2 separate regions of the Homo sapiens genome follow, and region 1 is linked to region 2. Evidence: fine-mapped expression QTL. A gene starts in region 2. The other region holds a variant in brackets. All regions are shown on one strand. Distances are between the middles of the regions.

What was found. PIP is the estimated chance that this variant, and not a neighbour inherited with it, causes the effect.
Region 1: its variant is fine-mapped to the expression of CMC1 in subcutaneous fat (TwinsUK, PIP 0.95).

Annotation. Positions count from the first base shown.
Region 1 is chr3:28,266,136-28,283,205 of GRCh38, reverse strand. The region is part of intron 2 of CMC1 (C-X9-C motif containing 1); the gene reads right to left. Among named protein-coding and RNA genes, the nearest start is that of CMC1, 33 kb to the right of the region's middle. The variant CAAA/A (reference allele first, on the strand shown) is at 7,878.
Region 2 is chr3:28,233,361-28,250,430 of GRCh38, reverse strand. It overlaps CMC1 (C-X9-C motif containing 1), which reads right to left and starts at 8,812. Exons shown (of 4, transcript NM_182523.2): 1 at 8,619-8,812. The coding sequence starts at 8,637. RefSeq lists a silencer at 8,520-8,599.

The sequences.
Region 1 (17,070 bases), 33 kb before region 2:
GATATTTACCCATGGTTTGACCTAAAGCTAGTCAATTACCTAATATTTTACATAAAGCACTTTGAAAAATATCATAAAGATTCTGCCCATCACTTTAATTCTATGCAAGACTTGTCCTTTGGCAATGTCACTGACTAGGAAGGTATGAGTACAGGGTTGAACTACGGAAATACTTTGCAACAAATACATGGCAAAGTTCAGAAAGTCAAAAAGAAGCTGAGCTGTGTGTGATGACCTGGAAATCTTACAGAAAGATATGTCCTAGTAAGTCTAGTCAAGTCAAATCGGATTTTCTTAAGCTCTGCTGGTAGAGATAGCTGAAATAAGGAAAGATATCTAATAATATGAACTTAGAGTTAAATTCGTTCTGGTTTGAATTTGATTGTCATTAAAACCAAAGTTTTAAGGTTATGATGAAGAATCAAAGGGATGAAAAAGTTAAATGTAAACAGATCATTCGTGGATGCATTTTAAAGATAATAACACAGGTAATATATTAGAATGCAGAGTAAAATTACTGGTGTTGATTAGAAGGAAAAAAGCAGCCTGACAATGTGAACTTTCAGATTATGTAAGCACAAGTCAGTAGCCATTAAATTAAAAGATTAAACTGTGTTTAGCTATTTAGCTAAACATAGCTAAAATATGTTCTTAGAGCAAAGAACATATTTCTTTAGCTTTGATTTCAAATAAAACAAAATATTACATTTAAAAATCTGACAAATCTGGTGAATCAATTTCTCCAGAGAAGGTAAGGAATAATGCGTAGGACACCTGTAAGAACAATAGCAAAAAGACTGTTCAGTTATCTCTGTAGGACTACATTGCAGTTAATGCTCATTCTCTTAAAACAGCCTCACTCTGAATAAATGCCACGGGTTATGCCACAGCAATCTGAGATAGGGACGTCTCTTTAGTTCTAGCAAACACACATGGTTACACTGCTGTCTGTCACTGTTAATGGAAAACAGCTTCTAGTTTTAAAAGAATGCAGAAAGCCAAAATTTAAAAAGTAAACTTGTAATTTGTCTTGTATTTGGTGGTAAAATTAATCTTTCCGTTTTATTTGTATGAAGTATTTTCCTAGGAAGGGAAATACACAGAAGAGAAAGAGGAAAAAAATGAATAAAGGGAGGTAGAAAGAACAGATTTCAAATTCTTCTGATTTTTTTTAACCAGAAATCAAATCTAAACTTCTGTTTCAGACTGTTAAGACACTCCAAAATCAGCCTTGACTCTCAGTCTTTATCTACATCATTAATCCCCTAATGCACCACTGGTTTCCTAAGGTCAATCTCTTTGCTGCTGTATCAACAAACATGCCCATTCTCACCTCTGTGCCTTAAATCCTGGGTCTCTGGTCTGAAATGTTTTTCCAGTTTCCCTATACTTAGCCAAATAATTAGCCGTACTTCAAGGTCCAGTTGATAACCCACATACTTCATTAAGTCTCACCTGCCTATATCAGAATTCACTGGCTTATTTTTTTCTAAAGTAACATGTAGGTATTTTATTATAAATTGTTTAATATGGTGTAATTCTATTTTCTGTGCCTGGTTTGTCTCTTATCAACCACACAATAAGGTACTCAAAAGCAAGTCTCAGACTTCAACTCTGTATCTACAGCACTTCTCACAGTATTGAACATGTGATAGGCAACCAATAATATTTAACAGACATGATATTAAACTTAATTCTGTAAATTAAACTTAATTCTGTGCATTCAGAGCAATATCAGAAGTTTTAAAAATTACTGAAGCAATGTCTAGTTATCTACTCAATCTTTGTTACCTTTTTCCAATGAAATATATTTAAATCCTAGAAAAAACTCAGAAAAGGAATCAAGTTTTAAAATTGCCAATATTACCAACACTTAGAAATAATACCTGTTAACATTTCCTCACTGCACTCTTCCTTTATAGAATCAATTTTAATTTGAATATTTATTTGATAACTATCTCCCCTGCCATACTTAAACTCAATAAGAATGCAGACTGAATCTGTTTCAGTCACATTTATGTAGACAGCTTACGTGCAGGGCTGGATACATGGTAAGTATTCATAAATTTACGGAATTAGTTAATTTAGGCAAGCCTTTCCTGTGTTTCTAGAATTTAATTTGATTAAACCAGGAGTCAGGAAATGTTTTCGGTAAAGAGCCAAAGAGTAAACATTTTAGGCTTTGTAGGCCATATGGTCTCTGTTGCAACTACCCAACTCTACTGCTGTAGTGTGAAAGCAGCTATAGGCAATACATAAGTAAATGAGCATGGCTGTGTTCCAAAACAACTTTGTTTACAGAGATAGGTGGTGGACCAAATCTGGGCATCAGGCTGCAGTTTGCCAACTGTTGAATAAATACAATATATTGTTAACTAGTTTCTCACTCTGATCAACACACTTACTGTGACTACAAATGTATGTATCTTATATCCTATGGCTGTACCATAATTTATATAAGCAATCGGACTCTGCTGACAACTACATTTTTGGCAATATTCCATATTATATATGATGCTATGTTGAACATCCTTATGCATATTTTATTGTACATCTCTTATCATTTCCTTAAGATAAAATCCTAATGGTAGAACTGCTAAGTAAGAGAGTAGCCACATTTATGAATTTTTGTGAATTTTTTAAATACAAGCTCCTTTCATGCTGTTATTCCTGGCCAGCAGTGTAAATACCTGCTTTTCCAAAATCTTGTCAACACTATACATTACATATGTTTTCTTACCCAGAAATACTTCATCATGCATGTGATAAGAGTTCAATATTTGTCTACATTTTTCTAATTAGATAACACTGATCTAAAATGAAATGAGTATTAATATATACCATTCAATGAAACAAAAGTATACCTTTGTGCAATACAAACCACCGAAAACTACAGAATATTAAAATCACTCCAGAAACTTCCTTTAATATCCTTTTTCAATCAATACTTGTCCCACTCCCACGTAGTGCAACTGTTGTTCATATAAGTTTTGTCTATTCTGAAACACTATATAAATGTTGCCTGTTCTAGAACATAATATTAAAAGAGTATACACTTTTTTCACTTATATTTCACTAAGCATAATAGTTTTGAAATTCATCTCAACTGTCGTACAGAACAGTAGTTTGTTCCATTTTATTGCCCATTGTACAAGTACACCACAATTAGTCATCTCTTCTTTTTTTGAGACGAATCTGGGCTATTTTCAATTTTTGGCTACTGATAGATACACTACTATAAATATTAGCATACAGGCCTTTTTTGTTTACGTAGTTTCATTTCTCCTGGAAAGAGTTGCTAGGTCACTGGGCAGATGTGTGTTTTGTGAATGTTGTTAGTGCTCTTAATTGTAGCCATTCTGGCAAGTATGCCATTCCATTTACATGAAGGTTGTCCTTATGTTATTGTCCTACAAGTCCGTAAGGGTTTTGCTCATTTTTTAAATCTTTTTTTTTCCCCTCTCTGTTTAGGTATTTCCTTGATCTATCTTTAGGTTATGATTCCTATTCATTTCCATTCTAAAAGTTTTATGTCAGTTTTTTTTTTTTCAGTTTTAGAATTTATATTTGGGTCTTTTTTATTACTTCAAATTCTCTGTTAATATTTCCTATTTTTATTCATTGCAAACATATTTTCCCTTATGGTTCTTAAGCAATTACAACAGCTGCTTTAAGATTCTTGTCTGCTAATAGCAACATATGAGTTATCTTGAAGTTAGTCCATTGATTTCTTTTCAGAATGGTTCATGTCTTCTTGTTTCTGTGTACACTGAATAATTTTGCATTCTACTGCAAATGTTGTGAGTAATACGAGTAGAAAGTTTGGGTTCTGTTTTTTCTGAATAATTTTTTTCTTTTTCATTTAAGCAGGCAATTTAATTTACTTTGAGTATGCATGCACACGCACTTTCCAAGGCCTGCAGCTACACCAAACCCTGTCCTTGGTTCTTCAGACCAACAAGACTGAGGGGTTTTGTTTGTCAAGAGTTTCAGCCACCCTACCTGGCAGGGGACTCACCCAGTGCTATTTCCTTCCTTCAATGTTTGACTTCTATTTTCTGTCTGCTTTTGTTTGCTCTCCAGTGCTTTCGGGTAGTTATTTTTCCTATTTTGTTCATAGGTTATAGTAGTTTTCTGCAGAAGGAATTGTGCAATGGAGCTACTAGGCCATGCCAAAAACAGAACTCTTTATAAACTGAATAAACTCATTATCAAATTTTAAATTATACTAAGTTTAGGTAATATAAAGTAATAGCTAATTGATCTAATGACATTCTTTCTGATTGACCCCATTCACAATGTGCTAGACAGCCACTATCAACTGATTAAAGTTGACACAGATGAACTGTATTTGCTATCTTTGACATAGTTAAAAGGTACATTATTATGGAAAACACACTAGGTTGGGAATAAAGATAGCTGAATTCTAATAATGGTCCTGCTATATTAACAAGTCAGTTGATACCGAATAGGTAATTTACTCTTTTTATTGAGCTATGACACCATGTCTTTCTATTCCCCACTGTATCTAACACCATGTATTGCACATAGTAGTACTGAAGGATAGTTTGTTGAATTAACAAATCAGTGTAGTTATGGTTTCTTCTGGAGGGAGAGTGGTCTATCTGAAATCTTAAGAGGAAGGCAAAGGAATACAAATGTCAATTTTTAATCTATCACTATCCAAGTTGAACATGTTACTGATAGTTCACTAACAGAAAATAGAACCTGCATAATGTGCACAAAAACATTAGAACCACCACAATTGTACAAACATTCTACTCCTTTGTTTCCCTTTATAAGAGAGATTTTTACTACTGTCTGATAAAGTGGTTTCACACTGCAATAATTAATAAGACACTTCAAAGTTAACATATCCAAAACTAAACTCTGAGTCCATCTACCACCAATAATAAAATAAAATAATATAATTTCTCCACACACAGTCTTCTTCATCTCTGCTAACTATAACTCCTCCTCTTTTACTTGTTCAGGACAAATAAGGAGCCATCTCTTTCTCTGTTGCCTCTACTTTCAAAATATATCTCAAATGTGCTCATTCTCACCACTTCCATTTTTACCACCCCTCCAGTCCACCATCATCTGTCAGTTGGAGTATCTCAATCACATCAATCACACAATCACATCAATCACACAATCAGACAAAAATGGTGTCTCTAATTCTCCCCTTGTCCCTATTCCACCTATTATTAACATAGCAATGAGAGCTGATTATAAATCAGACCCTGTCTCTTTTCATTGTTCAAAGCAATCTTCATCTTTCCATTTTTCTCCTTACTAGCTACAAGTCCTCAGTACCCAGGAGACCCTGAAAGATTCTGCCTCCAATCATTTTGCTGAACTCCTCCCTATTCACTCTACCCCTCATTCATTCCAAGCTAACCACAGTGACCTTTTTGGTGTCCCTTAGCCATGCCAGCTTCACTTACACCTCAGGGTCTTTGCACATGATATTCCTTCTGCCAAGATCATTCTTCTCAGAGATATCTGAATTATCTCACTCCTTCACCTCCTTCAAGAATTTGGTCCACATGTCACTTTCTCAGTGAGACCTATATTGATCACGTATTAGAAACTGCAGCCTCATTTTCAACATCAGCACTCCCCACTGACCTTATCAAAATTTATTTTTCTTTAAGGCACTTATATTTACTAATAATGTTTATTATTTATCCTCCCCTCCCCCACTAAAGTTCATAACTTTCAAGATTTTTGTCTATTTTATTCACTGTTATAAAATGGTAACTGACATACAGGGAATAATAAATATTTTAAATGAGTACATTCCACATAACGCTAAGGTTCAAGTGCTCAAAGGAATCAGAAAATTCTTTATTTGCTTTGTAAAATTATATTTTTAGTGATGTAATATTTGGCTAACACTAAAATATATGCAAACAGTATTACCAAACGCAAATACAATGGAGACAACCAATGTATTAAAATATGACACCAGATAAACTTGTTTATGGGCCTCAGAATAAAATCTCTATCACCTTTATTTAATATTCTGAAAATTTGAATAAATCATAAGAAATCATTATTCTTTAAAACTGCTGATTTATAGGATTTAGAATTTATTCTATACTTTCTATCTCCCAAAAGAGAAAACCACAAAAAGGAAGTGGAAGGAGATACATACTAGGCTGCAACTGTCACCTATAACTTCTGATTTAAAATCTGCTTCATCAAAATCACACATTGCTGTCATGTGCTGGCTCTATAAATGTAACAAAATGAAGCACAATACAATAAAACTGCTTTTATCTCTTTTGTACATTACGCTTCAAAGCAAATTCTGTCCCCAGACCCTCAAAAACGGGCTATTAATAACTGGTTTTAAATCTGAGAGTCTAATACATTCCAGAGTTTTGTAGAAACCAAAATGCCTCCTTTGTTATTTTTCCAACAGATATACAAGATTCCTATAAAAATGTATTTCAGTAAAATATGATTATCTGTGGGTATTTGCAAAATGTTTACCAGTGTCAGGCTCTGATTACCAGGAAAAAATGCCAACTGCAACTGCAGGATCATCAGGTAACTTAAGTGAAGTGTGATCTTCTACTCAGATTGTATATACAAGCACATCTGCTTAAAGGCCATATTTAATTTTAGATTAATTTCTCATGAAAGTATTTAAGTCTATTATAGCAAAATAATTCAAAGTTAATGTCTAGGAAGATTAGAACAATAAAATATTGTTAATGAAGTATTAGTAAAAAAGCTATGACATTTTATAATAATATATATTCATTTTAACAATATTTTAAAATTTCAAGATACGTAATTCTTCACATTTGTGTTCAAATGTAGATTTTACACAATTATACCTTGAAAGATGAGTTACATAAACTGTTTAAAAAACTATATTCATCCATCCTGACAAAATTCTCACTAATTTTGTCATTTAAATTTTTAGCATTTAAATATTTCATTGGGGCCAAGATGGCTGACTAGAAACAGCTGCAACAGCTGCGGTCAAAGGCTCCCACCAAGAATGAAAAGGGCAAGTGAATCCTGCACTGGGAATTGAGGTATCTAGGTTTTCTCACTGGGACTGGCTAGGCGGTTGGGACTGCCTAAGACTACTGAGTTCCCGGGGAGAGGGGTGGCTGCCATCACTGCAGATGATGGCTGCTGCCTAACACTACCGAGCTCCCAGAAGAAGGGGCAGCAGCCACCACTGCAGCTCCAGTCTGCCATTTTCCCCTGCCGGTGCCAGGGAGACTGGGTGGTTTGGAACCAGGAGGAATTTCCCACAGCAGAGCCCAGTGGCTGTGGCAGATAGTGGCCAGACTGCCTGTTTAGATCAAACCTGGATGCATCTCTCCTCACTGGGCAGGGCCTCCCAGTGGGAATTTCAGCAGTTCCAGTCAGGGGTTTATGGACAGAACTCTGATCTCCCTGGGATGGAGACCCTGGGGGCAAGGGCGGCTACGATCTCCTCATATCAGCAGACTTAGTCTTTCCCCTGCTGGCTCTGAGAAACTGGGGCAGTCCAGACGAGTAGGATTCCCACCAGAGCAGCACATGCCCTGCACCAAGGGGCAGCCAGAGTGCTTTGTTAAATGGGTCCCTGATCCTGTGCCACCTGACTAGGTGAGACCCAATCGGGGGGTTGCCAAACACCTTATACAGAAGCGTTCCCACTGGCATCAGGTCGGTGCCCCTCTGAGACCAAGATCCCACAGGAAGAAGCAGGCAGCCATCTTTGCTGTTCTGAAACCTCCACTGGTGACACCTTCAGATGCAGGAGGGAAACAGGTAAATAGGGTCTGAAGCGGACCCCGAGCAAACCACAACAGCCCTACAGAAGACGGCTGTAAAAAAAAAAAAAAAAGAAAAAAAAAAAA[CAAA/A]CAACTAACAGTAACAATGACAACAGCATAACAGCATCAACAAAAAGGTCCTCACAAAAACCCCATCTAAAGGACATCAAAGACCGAAGCTAGATAAACTCATGAAAATGAGAAAGAATCAACTAAAAAACACAGAAAACTCAAAAACCCAGAGTGCCTCTTCTCCTCCAAATGATCGCAACACCTCTCCAGCAAGGGCATAGAACTGGGCTGAGGCTGAAATGGATGAACTGACAGAAGTAGGCTTCAGAAGATGGGCAATAACAAACTTCACTGGGCTAACGGAGCATGTTCTAACCCAATGCAAATAAGCTAAGGACCATGATAAAACATTGCAGGAGCTGTTAACCAGAATGACCAGTTTAGAAAGGAACATAAAGGACCTGATGGAGCTGAAAAACACAACCTGAGAATTTGCAACAAGTATAAATAGCTGAAAGGAAGAATTTCAGAGCTTGAAGACTATCTTGCTGAAATAAGACAGGCAGACAAGATCAGAGAAAAAAGAATGAAAAGGAACAAACAAAACCTCCGAGAACTATGGGATTATGTAAAAAGACCAAACCTATGACTGATTAAGGTACCTGAAAGAGACAGGAAGTATGGAAACAAGCTGGAAAACACACTTCAGGATATCATCCAGGAGAACTTCCCCAACCTAGCAAGACAGACCAACATTCAAATTAGGGAAATTCAGAGAACCCCAGTAAGATACTCCACAAGAAGATCAACCCCAAGGTGCATAATCATCAGATTCTCCAAGGTTGAAAGGAAGGAAAAATATTACGAGCAGCCAGACAGAAAGGCCAGATCACCTAAAAAGGGAAGCCCATCAGACTAACAGTGGACCTCTCAGCAAAAACCTTACAAGCCAGAAGAGACTGGGTGCTAATATTCAATATTCTTAAAGAAAAGAATTTCCAACACAGAATTTCACATCTGGCCAAACTAAGCTTCCTAGGTGAAGGAGAAACAAGATTCTTTTCAGACAAGCAAATGCTGGGGGAATTCATCACCACCAGGCCTGCCTTGCAAGAGCTCCTGAAAGAAGCACTAAATATGGAAAGGAAAAACTGTTACTAGCCACTGCAAAAAAAAAAAAAAAGAAAAAAACAAAAACACTTTAGTACAAAGACCAATGACACTATGAAGCAACTACATCAACAAGTTGGCAAAATAACCAGTTAGCATCATGATGGCAGGACCAAATTCACATATAACAATATTAACCTTAAATGTAAATGGGCTAAATGCCCCCAATTAGAAGACACAGAATGGCAAGCTGGATAAAGAGTCAAGACCCATTAGTGTGCTGTATTCAAGAGACCCACTTTACATGCCAAGGCACACATAGGCTCAAAATAGAGGAATGGAGGACAATTTACCAAACAAATGGAAAGCAGAAAAATGCAGGAGTTGCAATCCTACTTTTTGTCAAAAGACTTTAAACCAAAAAGATCAAAGAAGGGCATTACATAATGGTACAGGGATCCATTCAACAAGAAGAGCTAATTATCCTAAATATATATACACCTAATATAGGAGGACCCAGATTCATAAAGCAAGTTCTTAGAAACCTACAAAGAGACTTAGACTCCCACACAATAATAATGAGTGACTTTAACACCCCAATGTTAATATCAGACAGATCATCGAGACAGAAAATTAACAAAGATATTCAGGACTTGAACCCAGCTCTGGATCAAGTGAACCTGACAGTTATCTACAGAAATCTCCACCCCAAATCAACAGAATATACATTCTTCTCATCACCAAATGCACTTACTCTAAAATCTACCACGTAATTGGGAAGTAAAACACTCCTTAGCAAATGCGAAATAACTGAAATCATAACAAACAGTCTCTCAGACCACAGCACAATCAAATTAGAACTCAAGATTAAGAAAACCACTTAATCACTAAAAACCACACAACTAAATAGAAATTGAACAACTAGCTCCTGAATGGCTCCGGGGTAAATAATGAAATAAAGGCAGAAATAAATAAGTTATTTGAAACCAATGAGAAGAAAAAGACAACATACCAGAACCTCTGGGATGCAGCTAAAGCAGTGTTAAGAGGGAAATTTATAGCACTAAGTGCTCACAACAAAAAACAATAACAAGTTCTGAAATTGAGGCAGTGATAAATAGCATACTAACCAAAAAAGCCCAGAATCAGGCGGTTTTAGAGCTGAATTCTACCAGAGGTACAAAGAGGAGCTGGTACCATTTCTTCTGAAACTATTCCAAACAACTGAAGAGGTGGGATTCCTAACTCATTTTATGAGGCCAGTATCATCCTGATACCAAAATCTGGCACAGATACAACAAAAAAAGAAGGCTGGGCGTGGTGGCTCACACCTGTAATCCCAGCACTTTGGGAGGCCAAGGTGGGCAGATCACAAGGTCAGGAGTTTGAGACCAGCCTGGCCAACATAGTGAAACCCCATCTCTACTAAAAACACAAAAAAATTTGCCAGGCGTGGTGGTGGGCACCTGTAATCCCAGCTACTTGGGAGGCTTAGGCAAGGATAATCGATTGAACCTGGGAGATGGAGTTTGCAGTGAGCCAAGATCACACCACTACACTCCAGCCTGGGTGACAGTGCAAGACTTCAATTCAAAAAAAAAGAAAGAAAAAAGAAAACTTCAAGACAATATCCCTGATGAAGATCAATGTGAAAATCCTCAATAAAATACTGGCAAACCAAATCCAGCAGCACATCAAGACGTTTATCCACCACGATGAAGTCACCTTCATCCCCACGATGCAAGGCTGGTTCAACACATGCAAATCAATAAACGAATTCATTACGTAAACAGAACTAAAGGCCAAAACTACATGATTATCTCAACAGATGCAAAAAAGGGCCTTCAATAAAATTCAACATCCCTTCATGTTAAAAACCATCAATAAACTAGGTATTGATGGAACATACCTCAAAATAATAAAAGCCATTCATGACAAACCCACAGCCAACATCATACTGAATGAGCAAAAGCTGGAAGCATTCCCCTTGAAAACAAACATAAGACAAAGATGCCCTCTCTCACCACTTCTTTTCAACACAGTATTGGAAATTGTGGCCAGGGCAATCAGGCAAGAAAATGAAAGGTTATTCAAATAGGAAAACAGGAAGTCAAACTGTCTCTGTTTACAGATGACATGATCCTATATCTAGAAAACCCCACTGTCTCAGCCCAAAAGCTCCTTAAGCTGATAAGCAACTTCAGCAAAGTCTCAGGATACAAAATCAATGTGCAAAAATCACAAGCATTCCTATACACCAAAAATAGACAAGCAGAGAGCCAAATCATGAATGAACTCCCATTCATAATTGCTACAAAGAGAATAAAATACCTAGGAATACAGTTTACAAGGAAAGTGAAGGACCTCTTCAAGGAGAACTACAAGCCACTGCTCAAGGAAATCAGAGACGATACAAATGGAAAAACATTCCATGCTCATGGATAGGAAGAATCAATGTCGTGAAAATGGCCATACTGCCCAAAGTAATTTATAGATTCAATGCTATTCCCATTACACTACCATTGTCAAGCATCCACTAGAATTCGGAATTGGAAAAATTTCACAGAATTAGAACAAACTATTTTGACATCCATATGGAACCAGAAAAAAGAGCCCATATAGCCAAGACAATCCTAAGCAAAAAGAACAAAGGTGGAGGCATCATGCTACCTGACTTCAAACTGTAAGGCTACAGTAACCAAAACAGCATGGTTCTGGTACAAAAACAGACACATAGACCAATGAAACAGAATAGAGAACTCAGAAATAAGACTGCACATCTACAACTATCTGATCTTCGACAAACCTGACAAAAACAAGCAATGGGGAAAGGATTCCCTATTTAATAAATGGTGCTGGGAGAACTGGCTAGCCATATGCAGAAAACTGAAACTGGACCCCTTCCTTACACCTTATACAAAAATTAACTCAATTGGGAGGCTGAGGTGGGTGGATCACTTGAGGTCAGAAGTTCTAGACCAGCCTGGTCAATATGGTGAAACACCATCCCTATCAAAACATAAAAATTAGCCAGGTGTGGTGGCACATGCCTGTAGTCCCAGCTACTTAGGAAGCTGAGGTTGGAGAATCACTGGAACCCAGGAGGCAGAGGCTGCAGTGAGCTGAGATCATGCCACTGCACTACAGCCTAAGCAACAGAGTGAGACTCCATCTCAAAAAACAAAAAAATATTAACTCGGCCGAGTATGGTGGCACATGCCTGTAATCCCAGCTACTCAGGAGGCTGAGGCAGGAGAATCGCTTGAACCTGGGAGGCAGAGGTTGCAGGGTTGCAGTGAGCCAAGACCGTGCCATTGCACTCCAGCTTGGGCAACACGAAAACTCCATCTCAAAAAAAAAAAAAAAAAAAAAAGAAATTAACTCAAGATGAATTAAAGACATAAATGTAAAACCCAAAACTATACACTAGAAGAAAATCTAGGCAATACCATTCAGGACATAGGCACGGGCAAGAATTTCATGACGAAAATGCCAAAACCAATTGCAACAAAAGCAAAAATTGACAAATGGGATCTAGTTAAACTAAAGAGTTTCTACATAGCAAAAGAAACTATCATAAGCGTGAACAGACAACCTAAAGAATGGGAGAAAATTTTGGCAATCTACCCATCTGACAAAGGTCTAATATCCAGAATTTACAAGGAACTTAACAAATTTATAAGAAAAAAACAAACAACTCCATTAAAAAGTGGGCAAAGGGCATGAACAGACACTTTTCAAGACCTTTATGCTACCAACAAACATGAAAAAAAGCTCAACATCACTGGTCATTGAAGAAATGCAAATCAAAATCATAATGAGATACCATCTCATGCCAGTCAGAATGGCAATTATTAAAAAGTTAAGAAACAACAGATGTGGTGAGGCTGTGGAGAAACAGAAACACTTTTACACTGTTGGTGGGAATGTAAATTAGTTCAACCATTGTGGAAGACAGTGTGGTGATTCCTCAAAGACCTAAAACCAGAAACACCATTTGACCCAGCAATCCCATTACTGGGTATATACCTAAAGGAATATAAATCATTCTATTATAAAGATATATGCATGTGTATGTTCACTGCAGCACTATTCACAATAGCAAAGACATGGAATCAGCCCAAATGCCCATCCATGATAGACCAGATAAAGAAAATGTGGCACATATACACCATGGAATACTATGCAGCCATAAAAAGGAATGAGGGACATGGATGGAGCTGGAAGCCATTATCCTCAGCAGGAACTAACGCAGGAACAGAAAACCAATCACCACATGTTCTCACTTATAAGTGGGAGCTGAACAATGAGAAAGCATGGACACGGGGAGGGGAACAACACTCACTGGGGTCTGTTGGGGGCAGGGAGGCAGGGAAAGCATCAGGATACATAGCTAATGCATGCTGGGCTTAATACTTAGGTATGGATTGGCCAGGTGTAGTGGCTCACACCTGCAATGGCAGGACTTGGGAGGCCAAGGCAGGCAGATCACCTGAGGTCAGGAGTTTGAGACCAGACTGGCCAACATGGCGAAACCCCATCTCTACTAAAAATACAAACATTAGCGAGGCGTCATGGCGTGCGCCTGTAGTCCCAGTTACTTGGGAGGCTGAGGCAGGGGAATCACTTGAACCCAGGAGGCAGTGGTTGCAGTGAGCTGAGATTGCGCCACTACCCTCCAGCTTAGGCAACAGAGAGAGACTCGGTTTCAAAGAAAAAAAAAAAAAGAAACCTAGGTAATGGGTTGATGGGTTGATAGGTGCAGCAAACCACCATGGCACAAGTTTACCTATGTAACAAACCTGCACATCCTGCACATGTATCCCAGAACTTAAAGTAAAGTTTCATTTATTTCTAAAACCAAAATATACTGCATCTTCCTCTGTGAGAAGAAAACTAGCCATTTTATTCAAGGGTATTTATGTCCAACTACATATAATTTTATTGCAAAACTGTCCTGTTTTCAGAAACAAGATAATCATAATAAGCTATTGAGTCTGATAATGAGCATATGAGCTAACACATACAATTGAGAACCACTGGATCAGTAAGTAATAACCATTATACAGTAGTCCCCTGTTATGCATGGGGGATACGTTCTAAGCCCCCTAGTGGATGCCTGACACTGCAGATACTACCAAATCCTATGTATACTATGTTTATTTCCTCTACATACATACCCCTGATAAAATTTGATTTATAAATTAGGCATAGTATGAGATTAACAACAACTAATAAAATAGAATGTTTGTAACAATAAAAGTTAAGTGAATATGGTCTCTCTCAAAATATCTTATTGTACTATAAATATCTTATTATACTAACCCTTCTTATGATGATGATATGAAATGATAAAACTAGAACCTCAGTTGACCACAGGTAATTGAAACCATGGAAAGTGAAACCACAAATAAGAAGGACTGCTATATACTTTGTTCAGTTATTTTTAAAATAATTCAGCTGTATTTATGATTGATATAAGCCTATTACTCATGATTCCATTGGCATAACACCAGGCATGATAGGCATACACAAATAGTTACTGCTAAGTAACTTTTATTATGTCCATGTGCAGAAAAGAGTTAACATAGCAGGCATGACACTGCTATCCTTAAAAGGCTTGCTTGCAAGATTGGCCCTTAGGTGGCATCGGAGAACTCGGATCTTGGGAGTGTCCCCATTTCGTAATTGATAAGAGTGGCTCACTGTGCCCAAACTGTTTGTACAAACAATATGATTTATGCTGAACACCTGCTTTCCTTCTGGGAATCTGAAATTTTGGTACATGTTAGGCAGAGGGTTCCCAAATGTTTTATTGAGAACAAATTCTCAATAAAAATTCTGGGGACTGAGTCTCTAATGAGCCTCCCTGGTAGACAACATTTCACATGTGTTGTCACAATACAGTGCTGGAGAAATTAAGCACACCCTGAGTGACTCTACCAGGAGAAGACTCATGGAGCTTGTGCCACGGTTTCTTCTGAACTTTCCCATATGCCTTTTCCCTTTGTTGATTTTGCTTTGTATCTTTTTGCTGTAATAACCTTTAGCTATGAATAGGATTATATGCTGAGTCCTGTCAGTCTTCCTAGTGAATCAACCAATCCAATGGTGATTGGGAACCCATGAGATAGTTCAGTGTAAGTCCAAAGTGCAGAAACTGTGCCTTATATCTACTTGTATTTCTTAGACTGTATAATATACTCATATATAACAGCTATTCATCATATGCGGTGATTATTTTCCTTTTAGTATATCAAAACCAGTCTCAAGATGTGTTGCATATCCACTTCAGCATTAGTTAATACTGGTGCACTGGTTAATGACAAAAATACATGTAATAAGAGTGGTACACCTCAAACAACAAATAAAAAGGCAGATTTTTGGCAGCTTCAAGTAACACAGTTGGACAGAAGAGTGATTACTTTGACCATGTATATAGTCTGCAGCCCTGCAACCTATTTCAATGCTGTTCTGATAATTACCTGCCTGTAAACTTCCTAAAGAACATTCTAAGCATTCTTGACTTGATTGTTTTTTGTTCATTCACTTATCTTTGGAATTTCACAAAATACAACATACTTCAGTTCTGTGTGATTGACAGAAGAGCGCATTTTATCAAGCTTCTTTGTTATTTACCTACAGCTCTGTGATGTTTCAAACAAACAAATAACCCATGCTTCCTTGTACTTTATGTAATTCTTTCAGAGCTATATCCCACTTATTGGACAACAGATCATAAAGACTGCAACATAAATACAAAAGAAACATTAAAATAAGGGAAAAGAGGGCCCAAGGGATGAAAGGAGTCAGTAAGAGAATACAGCTAGGTTAAAGAAAGTTCCAGCCCATCCCTGATGACAAAATACTTTTCTGTCTTTACCTGTGATAGCAAAAGGAAAAAAGAGAAAGGGCTGTTATTATTTCTAAAGCAAACGTCATTATCCAATATAGAGACTTTATAGCAAATGTCAACTATGCACTTCAAAAAAAGCAAAGAAATATAATGAGGAATTTTTACAAAACACTATACAATTCAGTGACTCTTCCTCTTATGGAGAAAAATGTATTAATACTAGTATGCACACTTTACCTATATACGGCAAACAATATTTTTTAAATATTACTAACAGAAAACATAAATCATTTAATTAGTGAAGTCAAACAGCTAGAAAAAGACAAAAGTTGAAATCCAGAGTTTGTCAAACCATCTCCCTAAGACACAAGGTGCTAACTCCTAGATCCAAGAAAAAGCAATGATTTCATCATTACAGTTGGTGGGAGGTTACTGTTTTGGCTTTTGGAAGGTGAGGAAAGTGGGAGGAAGTAAGAAAGCGATTTGGCCATTCTAGGGTTTTCCTTCAGTTCCATTCCCAATGTACTCAGTGTTCACTGTGTTAATATCTACCAGTATACTTCAGTCATTTATTTTAGCGGCTTTATTCACCACCAACAATATCACTAGCAAAGAAAGAATACTATAAAATTAAATTTTATATTTAAATCAATTAATTTTTCTTTTGATATCAACAGAGTTTATAATCTTGTCAAAGTTTCCCCAATAGCAAGATCAGGATTCTCCTTTGTAATCAAATCAAAGTTCAAAAAGGAAAGGTGCTAAGCACTATTCTTCTCTTCAAAAAGAAACATAGGTTGAGCGCAGTAGTCCACGCCTGCAATCCCAGCACTTTGGGAGGCCAAGGTGGGAGACTTGTTTGAGCCCAGGAGTTGGTGACCAGTCTGCACAACATAGTGAGACTCCATTTCAAAGAAAAAGGAAAAAAAAAAACCATATACTTTTGTGTTTATTTTACATTATTAAAAATATATTTTATAAAGACCAAGATTCAAGAGTTGACACCATTTAAATAATATGAACACTATTTGTCACCCAAAAGCTAAAATTTTTTTGTATTACGTTATAGTTTTCATTATACTGAAATGGCATAGTTACTGGAACTTATACAAATTCACTGTAGAATTAGAATCATGTAATTCCAGATTAAAATTAAATTTTAGAAGTATAAGGGTATATAATGATGAAACATTCTAAATGTTATCTATTGCTTAAGACAAATTTTAACTGTATTTAAACATTAGGTGAAATATGCAACTCAGACTAATTCAGTGTACATTAAGTAAAAACCAATGGTGTATA
Region 2 (17,070 bases):
GCCAAACTCTAGTTCAATCTCAGTCTTTATTTTCCATCTTCAACCTCTTATTTTTTGTTATCAAAGTTTACTTATTTAAAACTCAATTCAACATTTCTCCATCCCAAAGTTCTTCCTGACCTCCAGCACTAAAAAGTGATTTCTCCTTCCTCTAACCCCAAGATTTTGCCTGCACTCGTTCTGTTGCTATAATCACACCTGGACTTAAACACATCACATCACACTATATATCCAATCTTCTCCTGCTAGATCAGTGGTTGGCATGAGTTGAATTGTGTTTACCATTCTCCAAATTCATATGTTGAATCCCTAACCCTCAATGTGACTGTATGTGGAGACAGTGCTTTTGGGAGGTAATTAAGGTCAAATGCGGTCATAAAGGTGAGGCCTTAATTCGATAGGATTAGTGGCCTCATAAGAAGCAGAGGGCTCTCTCTCCTTCTCGTTCTCTCCTCCTCCTCCCTCAACCTCCTCTTCCCCCATCCCTCCCCGCTCACTGCCATGTAAACACACAGGGAGAAGGCAGCCATCTGCAAGTCAGGAAGAGAGTCCTTGTCAGCAACCAGATCTCCTTGAATCTTGGTCTTGAACTTCCTAGCCTCCAGAATAGTAAAAAAAATTAATGTACATTTTTTAAGCCACCCAGTCTATGTTGTGTGGGTCACTCAAGTCAGTCTATGGGATTTTGTTATGGCAGCCTGAGTAGACTAAGACAGATTTTGGTACCAGAAGCTCTCAACCCTGGCTGTACCCAAGAACCACCTGAGAGGGCTGTACAAAATTCTTAATGCTTGGGCCCCACCCCAGACCAGTTAAATCAGAAATGCTGGGGTAAAAGCCAGGCATTGATATTTTTTAAGGCTCCCCAAATAATTATAATATGCAGCTAGACTGAGAACTACTGCAAGTAAAAGTTAACTTTAATGAGGTCAGAGACCACGTCTAACTCATCTTTGTAATTCCCTCTAACTCCTAGCATATGGTAAATATGCAATAAAATTGTTTTAACTGTTTAACAAATGACACGTATATTTAAAAGAGTTTTAGTATTTGATAGTTACAGATACACTGTAAACAAATACGTATGTACCTATTATGTACCAATCACCACACCAGGGATTGTGTATACAATAATGAATCAGTCAAGCAAGGTTCCTTACTCTGCAGCATAAACATGTGATACTCTACATTCCAATTAGTCATGTTTAGGTAATTAACATATCTTTTGATCTGTAAGAATCTCCCAGTAACAGTTCTTTAGCAAAACACAATGCAGGATGGTAAACACCACATTCTTAGCAATTTTTTCCTTCAATCTTCTTACTTAAAAATGCAAAAATAGGCTGGGCGCAGTGGCTCACGCCTGTAATCCCAGCACTTTGGGAGGCTGAGGCAGGCAGATCACAAGGTCAGGAGATCGAGACCATCCTGGCTAACACAGTGAAACCCCATCTCTACTAAAAATACAAAAAAATTAGCCGGACATGGTGGTGGGCGCCTGTAGTCCCAGCTACTTAGGAGACTGAGGCAGAAGAATGGCACAAACCCAGGAAGCGGAGCTTGCAGTGAGCTGAGATCACGCCACTGCACTCCAGCCTGGGCAACAGAGCGAGACTCTGTCTCAAAAAAAAAGAAAAAATGCAAAAATAGAACAGAGGATTGTCGGGGAGAATGTTAACTTGGGTATCAATAGTTTTATTTGGGCACAATTTTGTTTGGTCCACTTATATCAAGTACAAGGTAATACTTCTCATATTTTTGACATCTACAGAATTTTACACATATGATTTTAACACCCCAAACAAAAAATTAAAAAAGATACTAATCCAGGCAACAAGACACAAACTTGAATTTATTTCTGTGTGGAGTCAAGAACCCCTTGAGACCTATGACAAGTATTAATATTTAGAATCATAAAAGTTCAAGGCTTGAAGCAACCTTAGCAATTATCTGATACATCTCTTTCCCTACTTCTCATCCTCAAACCTCATATTATGTCATTAAGGACAGGTTAATGACAAAGTCTGAGACAATAAGTCAGTCTTACTAACTCCCAAATTCGGTGTTGATTCCACAACAGTACACTACCTCCCTGGGAGGAGGTGGCCAATCTTCTATAATCTAGGTGAAATTAACTGACCTATCCTTTTATCTGGTCTCTAATGAATTTAAAGAGGTGGATTCATATGAAAAATATTTACTATTTATTACACAGGTAGAACATTCCCATTCTTCAAATTATGTTTTTCTTTATTTCTCCAATTATTTGTTACATATAGGCGCATCATATCTGAATAAAAGGTTTCCTTTTATTCGTCAAAGAAAAGGATTTTATATCTAAAAGGAAAACAACTCTATACATAGGTTATATGATATTTTGGTGGAGTTTTTAATCCTAAACCTTAAAAAAAAATGTTTAACTGGAGGTGGTGGCAATCAGGAAAACTCTCCTAAGAAACTGATTTTAAATTGAGTTGTGAAAAATGAACAAGAATTCAGTAGACCTGGGGATAGGGAAGATGGGAGAAATTCTAGAGAGAACAGCATGTACGATGGCCTAGAAGACAAAAAAAAAAGTACAGCTTAGCCTACCTTAGGTATATCTTAAGCCAGTGTTATTCAAACTTGTTAACCACAACCTGTGACACTTTACTGGATGCAGTACACACACCTGTGTGTATGTATACATGTGTGCAAGTACCCATTCCTATCTGACCTGTCACTATCTGAACTCTCACTACTATCAAAACTCTTACTATCCAACTAAGATTCCTAACAGATTCAGATAAATTATTTTTAGGATAGAGCTGGTATCCCTCCTGCAGCAGAGAATGTTGGAGCATTCACATCTGCAACCTTCTCAGGACTGCCCCTGGCCATGGTAGCCCTTTGCTGTTTTCCTTGCTGCTGTCCCTCTCCCAACTACTACAGTAACCAATGACTGAAAAAGGGCATGAAAGCCCAGCTCCCTTGCCTCCAAGGCACAATAAACTGTATGTACCATGTGGTACACCAGAGCTGATTAGGTTAAGACCTGAAACCACATCCTTGCTCAGATTTTTCCCCTCCCGTCTCCTATTTTCCTTACTCTCTTAAGGGTTTTTTTTTTCTTTTCCTAAAGGCAATCTATTAATAAACCACCCAAATTACATGCAGTTCTAGTGACCAGCTCTTACTCTCTAATACTGTGCCCAAATAAAAGGAACCAGGGCTTCTCAGAGAAATAACTAATTGTATGGATTGGCCAGGGTAGGTACAAGATGAAGCAGTGATACCTTGTGTGAGGGAATAAAAAGGAAATGCTCAAAAAAATGGTGAGAGTATATGACAAAGATCCAGAAGCTAGCTTAAAGGGAACTCTGGCCAAATCTGGGGAAATTTGAACACAAAAAATACTTATGTACATTAACAGAGTACAAACGATTGAAAATACAGCAGTTCATGAGTCCTTACCAAAAATACCAATAATAAATTCATAAATCAATGAAAATGAAACAAAGCAATCTCTTGCTTACAGTAAAATGTCAACAACCATCTAGTAAATGTGAAGGGAGTGTGCTGGAGGTAGAAAATCATTATTTTGCAACCATTATGGGAAAGACTGAATCAGGTAAAAAAAAAAAAAAAAAAAATCAATGGACCCCAAATCAAAGAGAAATATTTGATGAGAAGCAAATATTTACAAGGTCTTAACCTTCCCACAGATTAGTTACTAATTGCAAAACAGAGAAAATACGGCAACAAAACAGGGCAAAACCTTGAGTGGGTAATCAAAATTAACATCACCTACGAGAGACAGATACCCATGTACCTCCAGATGGGATACTCTGGAAAGACACATCATGTATGCAGTATGTGGCTGAGATCAAGGTTATTCTTGATCTAAACAAAAGTCAGATCAACACAAAATAAGGAGAGTTCTGTTTGTCACTCCGTTACCTAAAAACTTGCAGTGTCTTCCCATTGTTCTTAGTATAAAATTCAAAATCCTTGAAATGGTTTACAGATCATTTCATGCTTCAAAACTGAAATCCCAACCCCCAACCCACTGCCATGGCACATACTCCTCTTTGATCTCAATTCTTCTTTCTTATTGTCTTTGCTTAAGCCTGTGTTTTTCAAATTTCACAGAGCAACCATCAGAGAGTTGTTAATCCGATGAGACAAAAATAATGTATTTTCTATGGCAAATATGCTTTTAATTTATAAATATACAAAATGTAGATGTTAGGTCTTTTTTTTTTTGTTCTGAGCCACCAACGTAATTTATGTCTAAGAAGATACTCTAGAGATATGGCGGCAATAATAAAATCAAAATTTTTCTTATAGGCCAGGCAGGGTGGCTTATGCCTATAATCCCAGCACTTTGGGAGGCCGAGGTGGGCAGATTACTTGAGCCCAGGAGTTCAAGTGCTCCTGAGCAAGGAGTTCAAGTGCAGCCTAAGCGACATGGTGAAACCCCATCACTAAAAAAAATAAAAAATTTTTCTAATCAACTCCACAACCTTTTACATATTAAACATACAATGCTCAAAAAAGATTCTTCAAGTTTGTTTACATGTCTAACTTAAAATTTTCTAGTAAATGTAAGGGCTAGTACTGTTCCTGTACCCCTAAAGGTAATTTACCTACATTCCCACAGGAACCACTGAAAGAACCCCAACTTGGAGTACTGCAACCCAAATGTTCCAAGAACATCCATAATTAAATCTTCCCAAGACACATATACCTTAAACACCTTCTCATGGAATGTCATGAAATTCTTGAACCCACTTTCCACCCCCTAAGCCCTATCTCTGTCCCATCTTCCTCCTTTTATTAAGTTCCCGGAAAAAAACAGCAATAGAAGGACACAGGGACACACACACACCTGATTAAGGAAACTTCCCTTAGGCTGCCATGCCCCATTCTGCATAAGTAGAGAATGAATCTATGTTGACAGAGGGAAGAGAACCTAACTAAAAAGGGGAAAGGTCAAAGAAGGGAGAAAGGAATTACTTTAGTTGATAGAGAAAGTGAAAAATCAAATTTATCAGGTGCAGGTTCCTATGGGCCATCATCTGAGAATATAATCATGTCTGAAAATTTGTCCGGAACATGGCAATAAGCAAAGATTGCTGTTATTACTGCTACATTAACAAAAAAAAGGAAAATAATGTAAATAAAACTATGTATAAGCATGTAACCTGCATTTTTTCGCTGGGTTCACAGTTTCTTGAGGAAAACAGAGACCCTACAAAGTTAATTAAAAGTTGCTGCCAAATGAAAATCAAGCTTCTATAAAGATCACAGAAAATACAAAATAAACCAATAGGAAAACAGATTTTGCTAAATGAACCTCAATTGGTGTATCTATTATTCACTTACTCAATATGGGCAAATACCATCGTGGGCTGTACAAAGCAGTAAAACATCAAAATGTGAAACTAAGCTTCAACGTATGAACCAAATAAACACGAAATTAAAAAAAAAAAAAAACTGGCTTCCATACATTTTATTCTGGAATTTAAACAGACAAAACAATTTAGGGAAAAAAAAAAAAACCTTCCTACTTGCTGACTCCACTTTTTTACTCTCCATTGCTTCCATTCCTTCCTTTGATGAAGTTTCCAATAATCACATTGTTAGATTTGACCATGACCTTCCACCCAGCTGCTGACGTACAAAAACTGGAATTATCCCTATTTCCTCTTTTTTTTTTTTTTGAGACGAAGTCTCACTCTGTGGCCCAAGCTGGAGTGCAGTGGCGCAACCTCGGCTCACTGCAACCGCTGCCTTCCAGGCTCAAATTCTCATTCCTCAGCCTCCTGAGTAGCTGGGACTACAGGCGTGTGCCACCATGCCTGGCTAAATTTTTTGTATTTTAGTAGAGATGGATTTTCACCATGTTGCCCAGGGTGGTCTCAAACTCCTGAGCTCATGCGATCTGCCTGCCTCGGCCTCCCAAAGCACTGGGATTAAGGGCATGAGCCACGGTGCCCACTGTTTCCTCCCTTTCTCTCACCATCCTTATTCAATGCAACCACAGGTCCTGTCAATTTCTCCTCATGACGCTGTATATTTCTTTCCATCTGTCTATTACCATCTTGGGCTAAGATACAAACATATTTGGCCTGGACTACTGCTCCTATCCCTTAACCTGTCTCCCTTCTTCCACTTATGACCTGACCCCTCTACAATGCATGCTACCACTGTAGCGAGGATAATAAACACATAAATTATGTTACTGCCCTCTTTAAAAGATTCTAAAGGCATTTGATGCCATTAGAAAAAATCCAAATGCTTTATTATCACAGCCAGCCTTTGAGGACTTGCAGCCTCTGCAATATCTAGGCATTTAGTGACTACCTACTTTCCCAATATCTTTCCTTATGGATCCCCTCCACACTCTGACCCACGTTCAAGTTAAATATTTTAAGTATTTGCTACCTGATGGCCAAGCACACTCTGCCTAGCTTCCTCTCATCCCTCAGATTCCAATTCAAATGACACTTCCTCATAAAGCTCTTCACTGACTAATCTCTTCACCATCTACCACATGACATTATTTTCTTCATGTTTATCACAATCTGTAAAAATGTGTGTGTGTATGTGTGTGTGCCCACGCACGTGTCTGTGTAGGGGGAAAAGGGGGTGTTAATTGTTTTTTCTACCACTAGATAAGCTTTATTGGGAGCAGGAATTTTGTTTGTCCTATGTACTACTGTTCCCTAGGGTCCAGAACAATATGGGACATATACCAGACACTCAACAAGTCTTTGTTTAATCAATACTCAAAAGGTGGCATGGTCTACAGCACTGGACTGGAAATGAAATTACCTAGGTTCTAACCAGACTTGACTCTACCAGCAACTAGCTGTGTGGCCTTGGGTACAACACAAGATTGGAGTGGCTTATGAGTAACTGGAAGGTAAGCAAGTGAAGAGAGCAAGTATGAAGACTTTTTTCCCAAATTTCCTTGTCTAAATTCAAAAAGTGTAGATATATGGAAATCTTTAACCTCTCTCATTCTCAGTCTCCTCATCCGTATGAGATTACTTTAAAGGTCACTTCAAGTTCAGAAGTACCATAATTAGGCTGGGTGCGGTGGCTCACACCTGTAATCCCAGCACTTTGGGAGGCCAAGTCAGGCAGATCACTTGAGGTCAGGAGTTCCAGACCAGCATGGCGAACACGGCGAAACCTCATCTCTACTAAAAATACAAAAATTAGCCGGCCGTGGTGGCGGGCGCCCGTAATCCCAGCTACTCAGGAGGCTGCGGTGGGAGAATTGCTTGAACCCAGTAGGCGGAGGCTACAGTGAGCCGAGATAGCGCCACTGCACTCCAGCCTGGGCGACAGTGAGACTCCGTTTCAGTAAAATAAAAAAAAAAGATACCATAAATTATATGGGCCTAAACTTGAACCTTCCTTACTCACCCCTCACTTATACTCTACCCCTTCTACCCTCAAGAACCAAATCATGGTAGTCATCCTGAAACCAAGCATCGCACAGTGCACCTTACTATCTAAACCTTTGCTCATAGGGCTGCCTCTTCTCCAGCTCCAACCACTGGAAATTCCATCCCTCAAAGCCCAGATCAACTGCTAACTGCTTCATAACCACCTAGTCCAAAATGAATATGATCATTATGTTCCAGAACTCCTCTATGCTTCAAATTAGAGTACTCCCTGATCTACCACTACCTGCTGGACTAGTCACTTAACTTCTCTTCGCCTCAGTTTCCTAATCTGTAAAATGGAGCTAAAAGGACCTACCATACCACATATTATTGTTGGATAATAGAGAACACTTAGCATGGTAATAACATGTTCAATTAAAACATTATTTCTGTGCTACATATATTTTCCATGCTCCTTGAAGGCTCCGAAAGAGCATTTTCCATTTCTGAATCTCCCAAGTTTGACGCCATTTACCTCTCAATGTTTTGACTTTTTGTATCCATAAAATGAAAGAAATGGACTAGACCAACTACCATTCCCTCCAAAAATGTTATCTATTCCCTTGCAAAAATAGCCTAACGCAAAGATACTGCAGGTGACCTTCCACAAGGACGGGAATTCGAGGGTAAGTTAACTATTGCTGCAAACGGAAGTGGCTGGAAGCAAAGAGATTAAAACAACATTCAAGATTTTGAAGATCCTTTCCAAAGAAACTGACTCCTGCCATAGTGATGGATCCTTTGAAATATGTTTTTAAGTTGGGTTACAAGGATGAACTCGGGGTCCATGAACTCCCAAACAGAAATGTAAAACTGTGCGCCAGAACAAATATACAAATTTTTCTGGGGCCAGAGTGTCTGCAGCATACATTAAATGCATCTGTGACCTTAAGGGGCGAAAAGAGGGTGACAATGAAGAGACTAGTCGCGTTAAGTTGGAAACCACAATGGATGATACTTTAGACAACAAACGCAACCTCAGATAACCATAATCCCCAACAAGTGAGAAGATGACCTCAGACCGGGCGAAGCAGCCGCCGGGTATGAGGAGACGCTGGTGGAAGCAATGCTACCCAGAGCTCTGCACCTTTCCCAGGTCGGCATCCAGCCCGCATGGCCCGCGGCGTGAGACCCGGGGCGAGGCCCCTCGGCAAACCCCGCTTCCCGCCCCGGTACCTGCGGGGTCGAGCGCCATCTCGGCGGGCCGAGAAGAACGTAGCCGCTTGGCGGCTCCGGGGCACGCAGGAAGGGGAGTGGAGGGGAGGGGCTTGGGCTCGGACGCACGTGCGACCCCCGGGAGCTTCCCGCAACAGAAACACGGGCCCTTTGCAAAGCACCGCCAGGACCCGTTCCCTCTTCCTTCCCAGGCTCCTACTTCCGCCGCCCGTTGCGCCTGCGCCTTTCTGGCCCCGCCCCAATCCTGTAACTAGAGTGGAACTGACTTCGCAGGGGGAATGACCAGGAAAGGGGGCGTGTCTGCGTGCCTTTGGGGCGGGACCGTGCAGGACGCGCGCAGCCTCGCTTCAGGAGGCTTGTGCACCAGTTGCAGACCCGGGTCGGCCGTGACTGGAGGCGGACCTGCAGGACTTTGGGACTGTGCCTCACTCGGTGACTGGGCCAAAGTCCGAGCCCCGTCCCCCATACCCGCCTTCGGAGAACCAAATGAATCATCCAGTTCCTTTTTTTTTCTTCGTTAACGTTCATTCATTCATAAATGTCTATTTCATGCCTGCCAAGTTCCAGCCACGGTTCTGAATACGAGGGGAAAATAACAATAAAAATAACGTCCCTGTTCTCAAGGAGCAGTGTGGCAGAGGAGACAAATAAAAGCAACACGCTGTTAAATGTGATAAACGCCACACGCACTAGTTGTTCACAGCTTGTTCTACCATAAAGGTGATATGGTGTGTGCAATATCGTTATTTCTCCTTCAAATCAAAGACTGTGGCTCTCCTAGACGTTAAAATATGGGCTCTAGAAGTACCTCTATGTTGTGAAATAATATCCTCAGGACGTACAGTATGATTTGGGTGATGTTACAAATCCTGCCTCTATCAGTAAAAGCTGTATGTTTTGTGAGAGTAAAATGAAGGAAGGTAATAGCCGTCCCGCTGAAGACCCACTACTCACCTCTTCTCAATAGAAGAAACTTTCTAGGTGGCACTTAGGTTCATTTCCACTCACAAACCAGCCTTCAGAAGTGCTTCCTTGTCAAATTCACGTTTAACTGGCTCGAGCCACGAAAGGGTGAGCTGAGGCCTGGGACAGATGGGACAGATGTTTAGAAAAACAAGGAGCAGCTGCTTCTTCCCTGCAAGGGATTCAGGGCTTTCAAAATGATCCCCTCCCCACCTACCTGCAGTCCCTCCTCCCCTGCTGCTGCTTCCGCCTGGTCAGTTGGCAGAAAAGCTGAGGCAGTTGAGCAGGGCTGGGAAAGTGGGTCTCTGCTCAGCAGGTCTTCCGTTTAAGGGCCTATTTGGGCATAACGGCCCTTATTACAGCTGTAGGTTGAGGTGCCAAGGTGAAGAATTAACGTTTCACTCACCCAGCCAGGGAATCAGGTCCTTTTCCTTGTATATTTTGTAAATATGCTTAGAAATACACCAAAATGACTCTGGTATGCCTCTTTTATTGTTCTGAAGGTGAAGGATTTGATTTAGAAAGCTAAAGCAATCTTTTTGAGGAGATGGAGTATGAAAACACAGGTCAGACACCCATATTCAAGAATTAAACTAAATCTTTCTATATGCAAAAGGGTATTATGGTAAAGGAGGAAAGTTTGATCTGTTATCTTAGTGAGTTGAGTAAGTTCTATTATTTTTCTGGACTTTGGTTTCCAATTTACAAGGTTGTTCTGAGGAATAAATGTGATATCATACAATGCATTTGAAAGACTTTAAAGGACCACTTCTACCATTTCTGCCATAGCTATTACTTGAAACATTACTATTTAACATTTGTTTTTAAATCAACACATTTTTAAAAACACTTAAATAGGCACTATTTACTTTAGCCTTATCCTAAGCAACAGTATCTGTAATATCATGGGTTTTGTGTGCCCCATAGAATGAACTGCTAGACGTATCACACCAGGAGAAGCACTAGCAAAAACGGTAGCCCAATACCTGATACATAATAGTATATCTCTCTCTACTCCCATGTTAAACCAGATACTTTGGGGGGAAACTGAGTCTTTACAATCTATACCTAGGGAAGATAAGTCATTTTTTAAGTTAAGCGAATGTAATTGGCAATTAAAAACAGAAGAAATTTCCTGAGGCATCGCATTATTAATAGGCAATTCTTTGGGTAGTAACTGCAAAAGGAGCTCAAGGAAAGAGGAGAGGACATCATCCTGGAAATTAGGAACAGTGTCTTACCCAGCTGTGATCCCTAGAGCTCAGGCAACGTCTGGTAACTGGTGACCCCACAAAAGCCTTTCTCAAAGGATTGAATGCCGCAATGGTTAGGAAAGACTTCAGAGATAAGTTAGAAGTTATGCTCGGCCTTGAACGATGGGTACAATGAGTAGACAGAAAAAAGGGCATCTCATGCTGGGAGAAAAATGAGAGCAAAAGCATCTGGGATTTGAACTGTTCTTGAAAGAGCATGGTGGAGCATGGCAGAGTACAGGCTAAGGAATGGAATCACATGAACAAAAGCACAGGGGTGGGAAGCACCCAGCTGTGTGGCAGGAAGCACCACGGGGCTGTGTGGCAGGCATGTGGTGGGCAATGCTTGAAACTACTTCAATGCATTTTAGGATTTGGGAAGCTAGGGCAGTTATGCATTGGCTAGAAAAGTCCAGATTCCCACAGCCTTAAACACTAGACAGAGGTGTGTTTGAATGTGTTACTATAAGCAACCAGAATCTGTTGAAGGTTAATATATAGGAAAAGAGCATTGTGGTCAAAATTTTCTAAAGGTGTTTTATAAAAGTTTTGCGCAGGATGAATGTAGGCAGCGAGGAAAGAGCTAAAAGGCAAGCAGAAAAGTAAGGAGGCTATTGTACTGGTTTGGGCAAGATATGAAAAGAGCCTCAACTGGGATATATAAAAGGATGGATGTGAGAGTAATTGCAAAGGAAGAATCTATCCTTTGAAATTGGATTTAGAAGACTAAGACAAAGAGTCAAGATTTCTGGATAATTCCTTTTTTTGGCAAATGTATACAGACAAATGAGAAAATCATGGCAATGTGCCTATTCATGCCTGAAATGATCTGCCTTGATCCTCATTATTGGGGGCTAACAGTGGCGATAATGAAACAGAAAGATCAGTTCAGAGAAATTTGCAGTAATGCAGGGTAATAACAGTAGTTGAACCACAGTGAATTTCTCTTTGTATGTGAAGGCAAAGGAATGTGCAAGTAGAAACAAGTATCTTGATTATTTTTGAGTCAATTCTGAATTGGATCTAACATTCCTTTATGCTATATGTTGATATGCAGCTAGTTGTTTTTTGAAATTGAGATTATCAGTCAGCCCCTCCTTGCTTCTGCCTCTTCTTAGCATCAGAAGTAAAGACTTTTCATCTGCAGCTTGGCTCTGCTACAGATGAGAATAAAACTTGAAATCAATGAGATTTCAAATTTGAGTCAGTAAGAATCAAACTTGAAAGAATATTAGACGCCTCATCTCTACCAGAGGATAGGATTTAGAAGTAGTTCTCGGCCAGAAGATCACTAATCAAGGGTCCCTGGTGGCCCTGCCTACTTTCTGAGCTGTATTATTTAGCACCCAGTTTGCATGGCTTGTGCCTTCTCTGGTTTAAAAGGACTTAGGTCCATGTTGACATTTCTATTATTTGCTAGGGTGGTCATAATGAAGTGCCACAGTCTGGGTAGCTTAAACAACAGAAATATTTTCTCACAATTGCAGGTTAGAAGTCTGAGATCAAAAATGTCGGCAGAGTTGCTTTCTCCTGAGGCCTCTCTTCTTGATTTGTACATGGCATCTTCTCCTGTGTCTTCACATGGTCTTCCCTCTGTGTGGCTGTGTCTCCTAATGTCTTCTTGTAAGGACATCAGCCATATTGGATTGGGACCAACTCTAATGAATATCCTAATGGCCTCATTTTGTCTAAACTACCTCTTTTAAAACCGTATCTCCAAATGCAGTCACATTCTGAGGTGCTGGGGGCTAGGACTTCAACACAAGAATTTTGGGAGACACAGTTCAACTGATAAAAGCATTGAAATATTTTTAAAGGACTACAATTATTCCCTGAATCCCAAATCACTTCACTAGAGCCCTGAGAACCTGTCTAGTGTTAGCCTGTCACCAGAATAAAATACTTTGTCCCTGTTTTCCTGGCTGTTGAATAGGGCCTGTTTTAATCTGACTCAGTTCACCTATCCACTTCAATCAGCTCCTGACTGTCCCTTCTCTACATCTGATTGATCAAAACATGTAGTCAGTTCTCCTTCCTTAATATATCTTTATTTCATCTGCCAATCAGAGTCATAACTCCTAGTCCAAGGTCTGCCCATTTGTGCTGATATTATTGTAATAGTTCTGAACTGGCTCTCTGTTCCTAGGCATTTCTTCCTCCCACTTATTCTCTCTATTCCATGTCACCCACAACAGCAAATATGATTATAAAATTTCTTATATAAAATTCCCAGTAAGAGACAACCTATGGAATGGGAGAATATATTTGCAAATCATACAAATGATAAGGAGCTAATATCCAAAATATATAAGGAATTCAAACAACTCCATAGCAAGAAAACAAATAACCCAATATAAAAATGGGCAAAGGACATTAATAGGCATTTCTCAAAAGGAGACATATAAATGATAAGTATGTGAAAAAATGTTCAACATCATTAATCATCAGGGAAATTCAAATTAAAACCACAATGAGATATCACTTAAGATCTGTTAGAATAGCAGAAATACAGGAAGATAATAAACATTTATGACGATATAGAGAAAAGAGAACACTTACACACTGCTGGTGGGAATGTAAATTAGTACAGCCATTATGGAAAACAGTCTGGAGGCTCCCCAGAAACTTAAGAACAGAACTATCATATGATCCAGCAGTCCCACTACTGGGTATATATTCAAAGGATATGAAAGCAACATGCTGAAGAGATATCTGCACTCCCATGTTTTATTGCAGCATAATTCACAATAGCCAAGACATGGAATCATCCTAAGGGTCCATCAATAGACGAATGGATAAAGAAAACATGGTATATATACACAATGGAATACTGTTCAGCTCTAAAAAGAGAAATTCTGTCATTTGCAACAACATGGATGAACCTGAAGGACATTATGTGTCCTTCAATTTTGAAAGACTCTTGCGTGAAATAAGCTCAGCACAGAAAGAAAAATACCGCATGATCTTACTTATATGTGCAGTGTGAAAAAACCAAACTTATAGAAACAGAGAGTAAAATGGTGGTAACCAGAAGCTAGGGGTTTGGGGACCTTGGGGAAATGTTAATTAAAAAAATAGAAAATTTCCATTAGACAGGAAGGATAAGTTCAAGAGATCTACTGTACATCATGATCACTTCAGTTAGTAACAATATATTGTCTATTTGAAAACTGCTACTCTGTAATAAATTTTATGTATTCCCATTACAAAAAAAAGATAAGTATGTAGAGTAATGCATATGTTAAATAACTTTATTTTGTCATTCCACAATATGTATTTTAAACGTCATGATGTACACTATAAATATATACTATCTAACTTGCCAGTTGAAACAAATACATGCATACATACATACATATATAAATCCTCAGTAGTTCCTTATATAAATAAAATTCAAACCCCTTCTTTTAGTAAGGTTCACAAAACTCTTTATAAACTTAGTCCCAGATTACTATATCAACTTTTCGTAACCAACCTCCTTGTAATCTGCAATTTCTGCTACATTAACTTACATACAATGGTTTATTAAATTACCTGTAAAGACTTCTTTGGGCTATCCTGGAAAAATGGGTAAGAGTTTGTAGTTAATATAAAAACTTGAAACTGATGCAGAAAAAGTATCTAGTTTTCACTAGGACCATTGGAACTAAACAGAGTGATATAATTTGGATGTATGTACTCACCCAAATCTCATGCTGAATGTAATCCCCTATATTTGAGGTGGGGCCTGTTGGGAGGTGATTGGATCATGGGGGCAGATTTCTCATGAATGCTTTAGCACCATCCTCTTGGTACTGTCCTTGCGATAGTGAATGAGATCTTGTGAGATCTGTTTAAAAGTGTGTGGCACCTCCTCTCTCTCCCACTCCTGCTCTGGCCATGTGACATGTCTGCTCCTCCTTCACCTTCCACTATGATTATAAGTTTCCTGAAGGCTCCCCAGAAGCCAAGCAGATACCAGCATCATGCTTCCTATCCAACCTATGAGCCAGTTACACTTCTTTTTGGTATAAATTATCCAGTCTTAGTATTTCTTTAGAGCAACGTGAGAATGGCCTAATACACAGAGCTAAACTCATTTTTCTCCCCTACTTTACTTAACTTTTTAAATTGAGATATAACTTATATACAGTAAAGACTACAAATCTTTGTGCAGCTAAGTATTTACGTATTTATACACTTTGAACTACCACCCAAAATAATGCTCTGTCAAAATATAGAACATTTACATGTTTATACACTTTGAACTACCACCCAGAATAATGTTCTGTCAAAATATAGAACATTTCTAGTCATCCAGAACTTTCCTTTTTATCTCCTTTTAGTAAAACCTCTCTCTACAAAAGTAGCTACTCTCATAACTTCTCTGAGCATTGATTAGTTTTGCCTGTTTTTGATCTTTATATAAATGTAATCATACAGTGTGTAGTCTTTCCTATCTGGCTTTTTTTTGCTCAACTTCATGGTTATGAGATTTATTCATGTTGTTGTATATATAGAGATAGCTGCTCTGCTACTTTAAATGTAACTTTTGGTAAATTGTTTATCCTCCTGAGCCTCAATTTTTTCATCTGTACAAATATAACCCACCTCCGCATGATTGATTTGAGCCTTAATGATGCCCTGTTACAAACGCTGACAGTGGTGTCCAGCACACAGTAGGCCATTCTTAAACTATAGTAATTGTTACTATGATGATTGTCCTCTCTATTTTCACTTTTGAAAACTGTTCTTTCAAACTATTATTACAGGATATGTAGTTTTTAAAAATGTTTTATTCAGAGCTACTCTGCCTTCAGGATTGAAATCTAGACAACAATGGGTTTAAATCAGTATTATGTGAAACAACCTTCAAATGAAGAAAGGAGATTTAGCAGTGTGCCCTATCATTTATCAGGTGAGAAAAAAAAGTGTGAAATATCACCTCTCACCTCTGCAGAAGGCTTTCTATATTTTATGTTTTGTTTTTACTGTGTATGGTTTTCTGGGTGGCCTCCTTTGAGACAGACCACAATATTCTCTGGGGTCAGAGGCTCTATTCCTAGAAAATGAAATAATTTTCAAAAGTAATAATAATACTATGACATGACTTATCTTGGATTTCTCCTATTTTGGCTTTGTGTGGGTGCTATGATCCTCTGTAGAATTTCTCATAGGAACTGACGAAGAAAACACAGGAGTGTTTTTTGTTGTACACCGAGCCTGAAACATCAATGACATACCAGTTAGTGGGTCAACTGCACTGAAAACAAGTCAGAGACCTTTTGCTCATTTAGAGGAAACAAAGTTATGAAAACTTTAGTGACTTAACACCAAGTATCTCCACCCTGCTAATCTGAAAGAAGACAAATGTCTTAATTGAGCACCATTCCTCCTTCAGATCAGAGAATTTTCTGTATGCCGCTCACTGTACTGAATCCTGGGAAAATAAAGATCAGTAAGATGAGGTTTCTGCCTTTAAGGACTCAAAGTCTAGAGGGAGATAGAAAAATATATGAACAAATAATTACAATTCAACTGATAGATGATGATATGGGAGCCCAAAGAATGGATAAATTAATTTGACTTTCAGAAGACTTTATATACTTGCTTATGTTCGAGTAGGTCTTAAAGAATAATTAGATTTTCAACAAGAGAAAGGCAAATGGAGTCCTCATTGACAAAGCTTTTACCATGTAGAATAGGTGTGGGATTAGTGCCATGCCCTATGAATATGGTTAAAATAGCTAGATTATCCACTACTATTTGGAGCCAAAGAAGATACAAGAAAAAAAAAATCTAATGTTAAGTATTGCTATCAAGTTTCAATGCTTTCTTCCCAGTGCTATGCTCAAACAAAACAATCCCACATCACTGATTCTGGTATCTTTACCAATTAGACATGAAGCATTAAGTCCAAATGAAGACATCCCAAAGAACTCAGGCCTTGACCTTTAGTAAAGAAGAGTGTTTATGTTAACTTCTATTAATTTGATTCTGTGTCATGGAGCCAGGGATCTCAAAGTGTAGATGAAAGATGTCCTATAAAAATAAGGTATTGCTGTTGTTACTAAGTCACATGACTATCTGCTTTCTGAGGAAAGAGATTGTGTCTTATGTGCTATGGTAGTCCCCTACATTTCTCACAGGACTTGGCATCATAAATGCTTCTTGCACAAATTCCTGTTAATGGAGAATGTAAGGGCACCATGTAAAACTGAAGTGGGTCACATGGCCCATCAATTATTCTTTATTAA